Linked DNA regions of Homo sapiens: region 2 is linked to region 1. The links come from fine-mapping of genetic effects on gene expression. Tissue or cell type: fibroblasts. Region 1 holds a variant in brackets; the other region holds the start of a gene. All regions are shown on one strand. Distances are between the middles of the regions.

Region 1 (5,545 bases):
ATCCTTTGGGTATATACCCAGTAATGGGATGGCTGGATCAAATGGTATTTCTAGTTCTAGATCCCTGAGGAATAGAACTTAAAGTATAATAAAAAATATATATATAATAAAAAAGTCTAAGAGACAAATGGCTAATTATAGTGATTTATTCTTCTACAAACAAGAATGAAAAATTCACCCTTCAAAATAGTATATGTAATATTATTAATTTGTTAAGGCTGCTATAACAAAATACTACAGACAGGGAAGGTTAAACAGCAGATATTTGTTTGCTCATAGGTCTGGAGGTGGGAAGTCTGAAATCAATGTGTCAACAGGGTTGATTTCTTCAAAGAGTCCCTCTCCTTGGTTTGTGATGGCCATCTTCAGATGTCTTCACATGGTCTTCCTTCTGCAAGTGTCTGTGTCCTAATCTTCTCTTCTTATAAGGACACCAGTCATATTGGGTTAGGACCCACCCATAAGGCCTCGTTTAACTTAATTACCCTTTAACGGCCCTATTTACAAATACAGTCATACTTTGAAGTACTGGGGGTGTGGATTCCAACACATGAGTTTTGAGGGGATGCAATTCAGCCCATAGCATGTGGTAATGTAGAATGTATGTACAGTCAATAAAGGAAAGAATATAATATTTTTAATTATATTTAGAAAAAATATAACTTTATGTATCAAGGAACATGATAAGCAAAGTAAAAAGAAAAATAACAAACTAGGAAAACATATTTCCATTGCACATCACGGACAGTGTTACCTGTTCTAATATACAGTGTCCCAAAACAGGGAAGAGCAACCACATAGAAAGATGTGGTTGAGAGAAATGAACATAGTTCGGAGAAAAAGAAAAGCATATGACTTATAGCCATATAAAAAGATGCACAACTTCATTGATTGTAAGAGAAATGCAAATTAAATACAACGAATACCATTTCTCAACTATTAGATGGGTAAATGGTTCAAGTGTGACAATGTACTTAGTTGGAGAAGCTGAAGGGCATTTTTATACATTGTTGATGTGATTGCAAAATGGTTTTACAAAACACCATATGCATTTATTCTTTGACAAAACAACTCCACTTCTAGAAATTTATTCCACTGGCAAAATTACAGAAAGGTGTGTGGACATGGCTTTCATTGGATATCTACTGGAGTAGCATAAGACTAGAACCAACTCCAAATTCCCAGAGTAAGAAGCTAGTTGAATAAACTATGATACTCCACACAATATGGTTCTATGCAGTTGTTAAAGGAATGAGGAATATCTTTATGATATATTGCCCACTGGAATAAAGCAATGTAGAGTAAAGTGTATACAGTATTTATTATTTACTGGAGAAAGGTAGGGTGCACATATATACAAGGGAAGAATAAGCTGTAAAATAAAAATCAGCTACTACATAAAAAGGGAGAGAGAAAGTAGGGTAAAGAGAATAGGCACAGAAGTGAATTTGCCTTGTAAACTTGACTTCTGAGCTGCATAAATATTTTACGTAATTACAAAACAAAAAATAAAAAAGCAATTTTTACAAATCTTGTGTGTTCAGTTAGGAGCACACCTTCACAGAGAGGAACTCTTCCCAATGGCTTTAAGGCACAATTGTTGTTGTTTTTAAAAATATCTTAAATAAATTTTTATTTTTATAGATTTAGGGGGTACAAGTGCAGGATTGTTACATGGATAAATTGTGTGGTAGTGAAATCTGGGGCTTTTAGAAGACACAGTAATTTGACTCTCCATCCCTAGTGCACAAAAAAGAATTAAACAATTTCCAGTATTCAGGATCCAAATGAAGTTCATACAGTGATTGTTTGAAATAACTTTTAAGTCTCTTATAATCCATATTTCCACATTTCTTTCTTTCTTTTTTTAATTTATACATTTTTCTGCTTATTGAAGAAAACTAGTTATCCTGTAGTTTTTCCTACAGTCTGAATTTTGCTGTTGCATCACCATAATATAGAAATAAAAATGATGTATGATATTTATGAGCTAATTGGAAATGTGAACATAGACTGGTTATTTAATGATATTAAGAAATTATTGTTTATTTTGTCAGGTGAGACTATACTGTGGTCTTATTAAAATGAGATATATACTGAAGAATTTATGGATTAAATGTAAATGATGCTATGTCTGGTTTGCTTTAAAATAACACGGAGGAGGGTTTAGTCTGGATTGGCTTATATGGACTTAAGTAATGAATATTATGGGCATTCATTATACTAGTTTGACTAATGTGAACATGTTCAAAATTCTTTCTTATTTATTTATTTATTTATTTATTTTTTGAGACAGAGTCTCGCTCTGTCACCCAGGCTGGAGCACAGTGGCTGGATCTCCGCTCACTGCAAGCTCCGCCTCCCGGGTTCACGCCATTCTCCTGCCTCAGCCTCCCAAGTAGCTGGGACTACAGGCGCCCGCCACTGCACCCGGCTAATTTTTTGTATTTTTAGTAGAGACAGGGTTTCACCATGTTAGCCAGGATGGTCTCGATCTCCTGACCTCGTGATCTGCCTGCGTCGGCCTCCCAAAGTGCTGGAATTACAGGTGTGAGCCACTGCACCCGGCCTCAAAATTCTTTATAATAAAAATGGTAAAATAAGCGTGCTAGTTCTAGAGTTTATCCACCTGGATTTGAATTTTGTACCACCACTTAGTAAATACGTGATTGTGGGAAAATAATTTCACCTTTCTGTTTTATAATCAGAAAAGTGGGGCTCATAGTATTATTACCTCATAGGATTCTTGAGGCAGTTAAATGAAATGTTTTGTGTGAAGTATTTGGAGCA[C/T]ATTTTGTCACACGGTAAGCAACAATAAATTTTAGTCATTGTCATGCCTATTATTATTTTCTCTAAACTTTAATATATGAATACTGGAAGATAGAGGGTCTCTCTCTCCCTCTGAGATCATGAGCTACGAGAATAAGTTGGAACTATTGGTGGCCATTTTTCCTTTGGAGGGTGCATAACTCACAGGAAAGCAGGGACCCTGGTGGGCATTTCTGTTGCAATATCCCTTAGGGCCTTGGATTCAGCCATTCCTCAAGGTATTTTACCCTTGGATTTCTCACTTGCTGAGTCAATAATCTTTAAGCTAGTTTGAGATGTATTTCTAGCACTAGCAAGTAAATTTTTTTTTTCTGGTCATTCACTCATTCTAACATACAATAGTGCTGTTACCCTTTACCTAAAGCACATTTATGCTTATAATATTTGTCACTTAAACTCTGTATAAGCTTCCCAGTATTTAGTAAATAAAACCCAACTTCCTCAGTTTGGTATTTGGTTTTGGCGTAGTCCAAATCTTCTTCTCTAGAGTAACGTTCCACTCTGCCTGTATCCCTATCATCCCATCTTCTGGATGGGCTGGAGGGTGTGTTCCTTGACCAGGTTCTTGACTGAGCTGCTCCTGTGCTTCCATGAATGGCTGCATCTCATCTGGACTGGGATTCCATCAGCGCCTTCCCTGGCCATTTAATAGATGGACTCGCCATCCTTCAAGGCCTTGTGCAAATGTCAACTTTCTAAAAATTCGCTTTATTGGAGCTGGAAGGGACTATCCTACTTTCTCTAGCCCTTTGTTTTGCTCCTTCTATAGCACTTGTCACTGATATGTTGGTATCAATATTATTGTTAATTTAAAAACTGTGATATTAAATTTTTTATGAGATCATTGGTTCTTTTGTACTTGGAATAAAATCTTATTACTATTATGTATAAAGCCTCACATGATCTGGCTCCTTCCAGCTTTTCTGACATCATATCTTATGATTGTCCCCTAGTCCAATAGGCTTCAGCCACATAGGCAATTATATTCTTCAGTAAACTCAGCTTTCCTTGCCACTAATCAGCTGTCCCATTTGTCTGCAAGGCTCTGCTTCCAGATCCTTCCGTGGTTGGTGCCTGCTCATTATTTAGGCTCTAGTGCTAAGGTCTTTTCTCAGAGGAGCCTTTCCTGATCATCCTATCTAAATTAGCCCTTACCTCCCCTCTAGAATCTCTATCCCATTATCTTATACTATTTTCTTTATAAAACTTACAACTGTATTAAATTGCCGTATTTACTGGTTTACTCCTTGAATGTCTGTTTCTGCCCCCTTCCCTTCCTAACTCCACAACATTAAAAGTTCCACGAGGGCAGGGATCATTTGGTCTTGTTTAATACTACATTTCCATGACCTGGAATAAGGATTAGCACATGGTCAATGTTTCATAAATATTTGTTAGATGAACATTTTCTAACCTGTTTACTAGATTATCTGTACTACAAAGGCACAGGAGCTCATTATCAAGTATCTTACTTTTTGCATAGTCTATGCACACAGTAAATATTTGATGAATGAACAATTTCATCCTATTATGTTGAACCATAGGGAATTGTCTTTTTTTTAATGTCAAAATGATTAAATATTGGGAATTGCCTATGGTTCAACCTGGTATCTTCAACTGTTTTTTCAAAGAATTAAACTTGCCTAGAGAGAGTTCTGGCATTTCCTTTGGCTATCGGGAGGTGATCTCTAGGTGCCTGGAAGGGATGTGCCACATCCCGAAGAGAGTAGAGGCACTAGCCCAGACCTTCAGGAGGGTATGGTAAAGGTCAGCCACACAGGATGTATGTGATCAACCCCAATAAAAACTTTGGATACTGAAGGCCTGGTGAGCTTCCTGGATTGGCAATACTCTGTGTGTACTGTCAGACATTGACACTGGAGAACTGTGCAGTCTGTGGCTCCATGGGGAAGGAAGGGATGACTAGTAGTTCTGCATTTGGAAACTTCCCAGATTCTTCCTCCTATGCATTTCTTCCTTAGGCTGGTACTAATTTGTACCTTTGCCTACAGTAAACATGGCAGTGAATCTTATAGCTTTCACTGAGTCATTCTAGCAAATTATTAAACCTGAGGATGGTCTGAATTTGTAGCCAGTTGGTATGAAGTGATGGTGGCCCTGGGAACCCACTGGGGTTCCCACTCTGAAGTGACAGCAGTCTTCTGGGGACTGTTCCCTCAGACTGTGCAGTTCATGTAAGTTCTTGCATGTTTAAATAGTTATTTACTCAAGAATAAAGACCGTGATCATTTCATTATTCCTCAGTGTCTGTGACAGTGTCAGCCAGTTAAACTCTAGACACTTTCTTCCTGCATTTGTCAATACAAATGCTGATTGGAGTAGGCCACTGAACTGTTCTCATGAAGTAATTAGACCATCAGTATATACTGAAGATTTAAAATGAAGGTACTGAATTGAACATAATCAAGTGCCAGATCTACTATACAGAAAATTCTGTGCTAGGACCTGTTATTCCCAGAGTGAGATGAGTATCAAAGAAGATGGGAATTGGAATGGCTCTAGGAACAGACAAAGTATGGCATGAGTTCTCATTCTACTTAGTCTTTATCAGACATGAACTTTTTGAGCCAACTCTGCTCATGGATAGAGTCAGGCCTTATACCATGCCCCTTCCTTCAGCCGTCCCAAGAGTAATCATAATTTCACAAATTGCTCTTTTTATCCCTAGTTCTGTAAGGAATTACCATCATCTCAT
Region 2 (5,545 bases), 82 kb before region 1:
TATAAAACAATTAGAGTATACAGAATCATAAAGAAATAAAAGCCACCTATATTTTACAAGATTGATGTATTGATGAGGATAGGTTAAGACAATAGCATCCAGAAAGCACCAAATAACAGTGCCTTACACAAGATCCTTTTTTTCCTTTTCAAGTAAAAGTTTGGAGGTTTGCAGACCCAAGTTGGTGTGGGTTCTGCTCCTCAGTGTCTTTAGAAGCTCAATTTTCCCCAAGTTCATGGCCCAGCTGTTCCTAAGGCGTGGCCCCATTCTTCATGGTCCAGGTCAGAATCCATCCTCTCTGAAGCAGGATGGAGGATGGGATGAAGAAGAGGCACAGGGCTAATTGTCTCTTTAAGAAAGATTCCCAGCACTTGCCCTGTGGCACATCCATGACTTTCCCCTTGTTAGAAGATAGTTAGGAGACCATGTTTTGCTGCAATAGAGCCTAGGAAATACAGTCTTTATTCTCAGCAGTCATGTGCTCAGCTAAAATTTCTATTACCACGGAAGAAGGGAAAAATAGGTAGGATCAACTGTCAGAATTTGTCAGAATTATTTCCTTAAATTGCAAATAGAGGAATTTCTAGGTTAGAAGTTATGCCCATTTTCACGATTCTTGAAGCATATTGATACATTTGCCTTCAGAAGTTCTGTGCATGTTTACACTCCCAATGAGATCTATGAATGCTTTGTACTAAACACCAAGTAATCAAGTCATTCAGTGTTTCTTCTATGGCTTTGCTGTGGGCAGGATGTGATGGAGAAAAGTGTTGTGTTTGAGGGACCAGGGCTTTATTGTCAGGACTTTTTCAGCTGCAGGTGACACATGGCTTATCACGAGTACTGGAATTTATTCAAATATTTAGGATGATTTAGTATTAAGGTTGGTGCAAAAGTAAGCGTGGTGTTTGCTATTGAAGGTAATGGAATAGAAAACTAGGAATCTGAAGGTGGATAATTAAAAAATGAAGTTCTGAAGAGGAATGGGAGAGGAGGATTATATGGGTAGTTGTAAAAATTTTGAGACCTACAGAGAGAGGATGAAATGTAATATAATGCCCTCCTAATGTCAGTGAAGGGGCTTTTACACATATGTTTTTATCAATGGCTACATTCCAGGCAATACCCTAGGTGCTTTATATATATCCTTTCTTGAATTCCCACAGCCATCTGGGTAGGCATATAATTTTTATGTATCCATTTTTTACACACAATGAAGTCAAAGCTCAAGAAAGCTCAAGTTAGGGTAGAGCTAGAATTTAAACCCCACTCTGTCCGATTTCAAAGTTTTCCTCTTTCCGCTCTTACTCTTAAGTGTGAACTGATAAAAACAATTTTGGCAAGGAATTCACCTTTTCTATAGCACTTGAATTAACTGAAGGATATAAAAGACATTATGAAATCTTAAAAAATTATGAAAGAATTACAGAGAGTAACAAATGAAGTACTGTAAAGGCAAGGAAGAACCTCATGAGATTTTGTCTTTTCCAGGGGCCCTTCTCTGACCTGGGTTGGCTGCCTGCCCCTCCTTTCTCATAGTACTCTGTGTTCACCCTAAGACAGTTCTCATCTTTATTGTGATTGTCTATTTCCTTGGTCGTCTCTACTGCCAGATTATATCTTGAGTGTTAGATATTAGATTTCACACATCTTTATATTACCAGGAGCCAGCACAATGTCTGGAACAGTGTAGGTGCTCAATAAATATTTGCCAGATAAATTATACAGGCATTTATTCTATGGTCATATTTATACATATTACTGAAAGAGATTTTTAAAATCAACTTACTATATGATGCCAAATTTTTAAAGACATACAATAATAACTAGACTAATATAAAATTATGATTCTGACTATGGTTATAACAGAATGTTTATAAGACAACTGAACCTGTGACTAAGACTGAGTGCCTACAACGTGACAGGGTGTTCTGAGTGTTTAACATTTTATTATTAATTTTTCACAAAAATCTTATGAGGGAAACAATAAAATTATTATTCTTACTTAGAAAATGGAAAAACCAGGATATGAACTTAGGCAGTACTGTTGTAGAATTTTTGTGTTTAACAACTAGGCTATTTTATATCGCCATTGTTTATTAGCTGTTTATGACAAAAACAGTTTTTTTGCATGACTCCATAGTGGTATTTTTTTTTCTTTTACAAAGCACAGTTTAATTATCAAAATCAAGTACTTACTGTTTATACAAGACTATTCTCTAATCTACAGCAGTTAGTCAAATTTGTGGAATTAGTCCACTAATGTCATAGTAGCATCTTCTAATGAAAGCTCATAGATCCTTTTCCTGTTGCTTTGCTTGTCGACCGGAACTTCCTTTCCAACAAAGGAACAGGCTCCAAGAGCAACCCTCAGTATCTTGGGAAATTGCTGCTTTTATACCTGAGCAACCTCCAAACCGAAGAGTAATTTGCTATCATCATTCTTCCTTACTGCCCTTCATAACCAGGGTCTCATATTTTTTATTTTTTCTTCTAAAAAAAAAAACAAACCCAAAAAACAACCGTTCAATTGCACCTCCCAGGTGCACTCCCAGGCTTGCCAGGGGCTTTCCAGTCGCAGACCCCGCGTGTTCGCAGACTCTGCCGCCGGCGAAACTACATTTCCCAGCGGGCCGCGCGCCCTCCTTCCGGCAGGTACCCCTCAAAACCCGGAAACGCCTTGCGGGGCAGTGTGGGAGGGAGAAGTCCAGGGCGGACAGGCTGGGCGCACCCGTGCTCGCGCACCCCAAGATGGCTGAGAGGCAGGAAGAGCAGAGAGGGAGCCCGCCCTTGAGGGCGGAAGGCAAGGCCGACGCGGAGGTTAAGCTCATTCTGTACCATTGGACGCATTCCTTCAGCTCTCAAAAGGTACAACAGGCCTTGGCGGCGGAGGGTGGCGCGGATCGGGCTTCAGCACTGGGACAGCTCCTTCTGAGTCCCGCCCAGGGAAGCCGGTCCACCTAGAAATCCGCCTCCAGTGTCCTGACCCCGGGCAGGCGCTCCCTCCAGGCGGGGACGCGCCCGGGTGGGGAGCGGGGAGAATCGATCGGAGATGATCCTATGTGGCTATGGCCCAGGCTCCGCCTCTCGCGAAATGCGACAAAAAAGCATCATTTTCAGTATTTGGTCTGGAGGCCTTGCCTGCTGGTCTTCGGAGAGAGGCAGAGGGAGGTGCCTTTGTGGACCCTCATAATCTGCGATCTCTTCTTTTGCTCTCTCGCATTCACTGTCTTCAGCAAGAGCTGATGTACCTACATGTCAGGTTCTTGTCTGGGGAGGACCCATAATCAGGTTTAGGACACCGAGAAAGTGGTAGTGATGAGGAGGGTGACTGTTTAATGAATACAGTCAGAATCATTTCATTACTTATTTTGTGTTCTTCTCTTAATTTGTTGAGTATTGTTCTTTCCTTACTTGTTAATTCCAGGAATAGGAATTGTTAAAACGACTGTTGAAAATGTCGGTAACACAGGGAAGCCCAGAAAGGCTGCTTAGCGGTGTCCAGGGAAGTCATTTAATTGAAAGCTTACATGTGTTGTAGTAACCAGTGTGAACTCTTCCAGGTGCGCTTGGTAATTGCTGAAAAGGCATTGAAGTGCGAGGAACATGATGTAAGTCTGCCCTTGAGTGAGCACAATGAGCCTTGGTTTATGCGTTTGAACTCAACTGGAGAAGTGCCTGTCCTTATCCACGGGGAAAACATAATTTGTGAGGCCACTCAGATCATTGATTATCTTGAACAGACTTTCCTGGATGGTAATGTTAAGGCTACTTGCGATTTCTTGGATTTACTTTCAACACAACTATGTGTTCCCTTTCTCTTTTTCTCTCTCTCCTCTCTCTCTTTCTCTTGTGTCATGATGGTGGTTTGGGATTAAAAACCTTTTCCATTTCCATAAGCACACAAATATCAAATAGGTCAATAACAAATTTTGTATAGGCTAGTGTAATGCTATTTAAAATAATTTAATGCAAAATACAAATGTTAATGTTGAAACTTAAAAAAATTCACTTGCAAAAAACTGCAAATGTGTGGTTTGTGTTGGTGATTTCTTAGTCTTAAATTCATAATATTCTAAATGTGCACTGTGACGATTTCATCTAATATACCAAATGGTTTCACCTTAAAAACAAGAGGGAAAAAAGAGCAATAAATCTTAAAGGAGAATAGAATGTTAGTATACCTGAGTTCTTTGCCCCAGTCACTTCTGAATTGTTTGAATTTTATATCTTTACTAAGGAATTATAGGGCTTAAATTTGTATAGTGCATTTAGGTAAATCATTTATTAACAGCTTGTTATGTGTCAGACATTTTATAATTTCTTCAATAATGTCTTCAAAAGTATCTGTCTGAGACAGGCATGGTAGACAAGTTATTCCCATTATGTAAATGAGGAGAAAGCAACAGGGTTGCCCAAAGTAATATAGCTATTGTATGGCAGAGTCTTTGGTCTCCAAAGCCTTCATACTACACTGACTGTCTCCCATAATCCTTGCCACTTACACATTGTCTTGCTTGTTCCTAATAATAATCCTTTGAAGTGAACTGTAGCTTCAAAGAGTTACCAAAGACTACACAGCTGATCACAATGGACATTGATGAGAGCAGAACATGGTGCTCAGAGCTTCCAGCTGAATGCTCTTCTAAAAAGGCTGTATGAGATTGTTACTTTTCATCTGCCACCAGTTATGTTGATGTTAATAGGGTAGGTGAAAGCAGAACCTAGCCCCAAACTACAGGAAGCTGACAAAGGAAATTACTAGGACAAAAAAAAGTCTCATGTACTTAGAAGGAAAATGAGTATTATTAGGCCTAGATGGTGGGCAGTGGCGAGGGGGAAGCCCAGGGAATTAGATTAGCAATGGGCTACCCCTGTTCTTAATCTAAGTGCTAGTCCCCTAGGATTGTGATTGGCGGTTTTAATTAAAGGTAGCTTTAGCGTAAACCAAAGCATTTAATGATGTACTTTCTTTTCATCTTTATTTGCTATTCCTTATAAATTTATATGCTGGGGACTGTACTGAAAATGACAACTAGTTCATTTAAGAGAATTTTTCTCAATCTTGAGCTTTTTGGAAATGGATAAGTGTGTTAATTTGTATTTCTTGGGGGATGTAATTATAATGGAACAAAACAAAATAATTGTGTTAATAAATCTATTTTAAATGATCAAAAACTTTAAAAAGGTATTCTAAATGGAAAATCCCATTTAAGTTTTTTGGTAGCATTGCCTGAACTGCTTCTACTATCATCATTCCCCTCCTCCATCCCCTCCTTACACTGTTTTTCCTCTAAGAAATTCAGTGATATAAATTATATTTACAACATAGTAATGTTACCAATTATTAGGTTTTCTTACAATTTTCCTTAGTCTTTCTCTTTTGCTTTTAGTACAGAATAGTAACAAAGCAGAAATAAGTTCTGTGTCCTGCTAAGTTGTATTTAAATAACCAAACAAAGGAAATGCTAAGTTCTTTTGATTACTTAAGAATTAGAAGAGAAGGCACTGTAGGCTGTGACAGGATGGAAATATGGAAAGTGCA

The links. PIP is the estimated chance that this variant, and not a neighbour inherited with it, causes the effect.
Region 2: GDAP1 starts here. The variant in region 1 is fine-mapped to the expression of GDAP1 in fibroblasts (GTEx, PIP above 0.99). The same link has a PIP of 0.9 or more in subcutaneous fat.

Annotation. Positions count from the first base shown.
Region 1 is chr8:74,429,211-74,434,755 of GRCh38, forward strand. It overlaps a transcript of GDAP1 not described here. Among named protein-coding and RNA genes, the nearest start is that of GDAP1, 82 kb to the left of the region's middle. The variant C/T (reference allele first, on the strand shown) is at 2,791.
Region 2 is chr8:74,347,711-74,353,255 of GRCh38, forward strand. GDAP1 (ganglioside induced differentiation associated protein 1) reads left to right here and starts at 2,693. Exons shown (of 6, transcript NM_018972.4): 1 at 2,693-2,868; 2 at 3,564-3,756. The coding sequence starts at 2,752. RefSeq lists an enhancer at 2,706-2,935.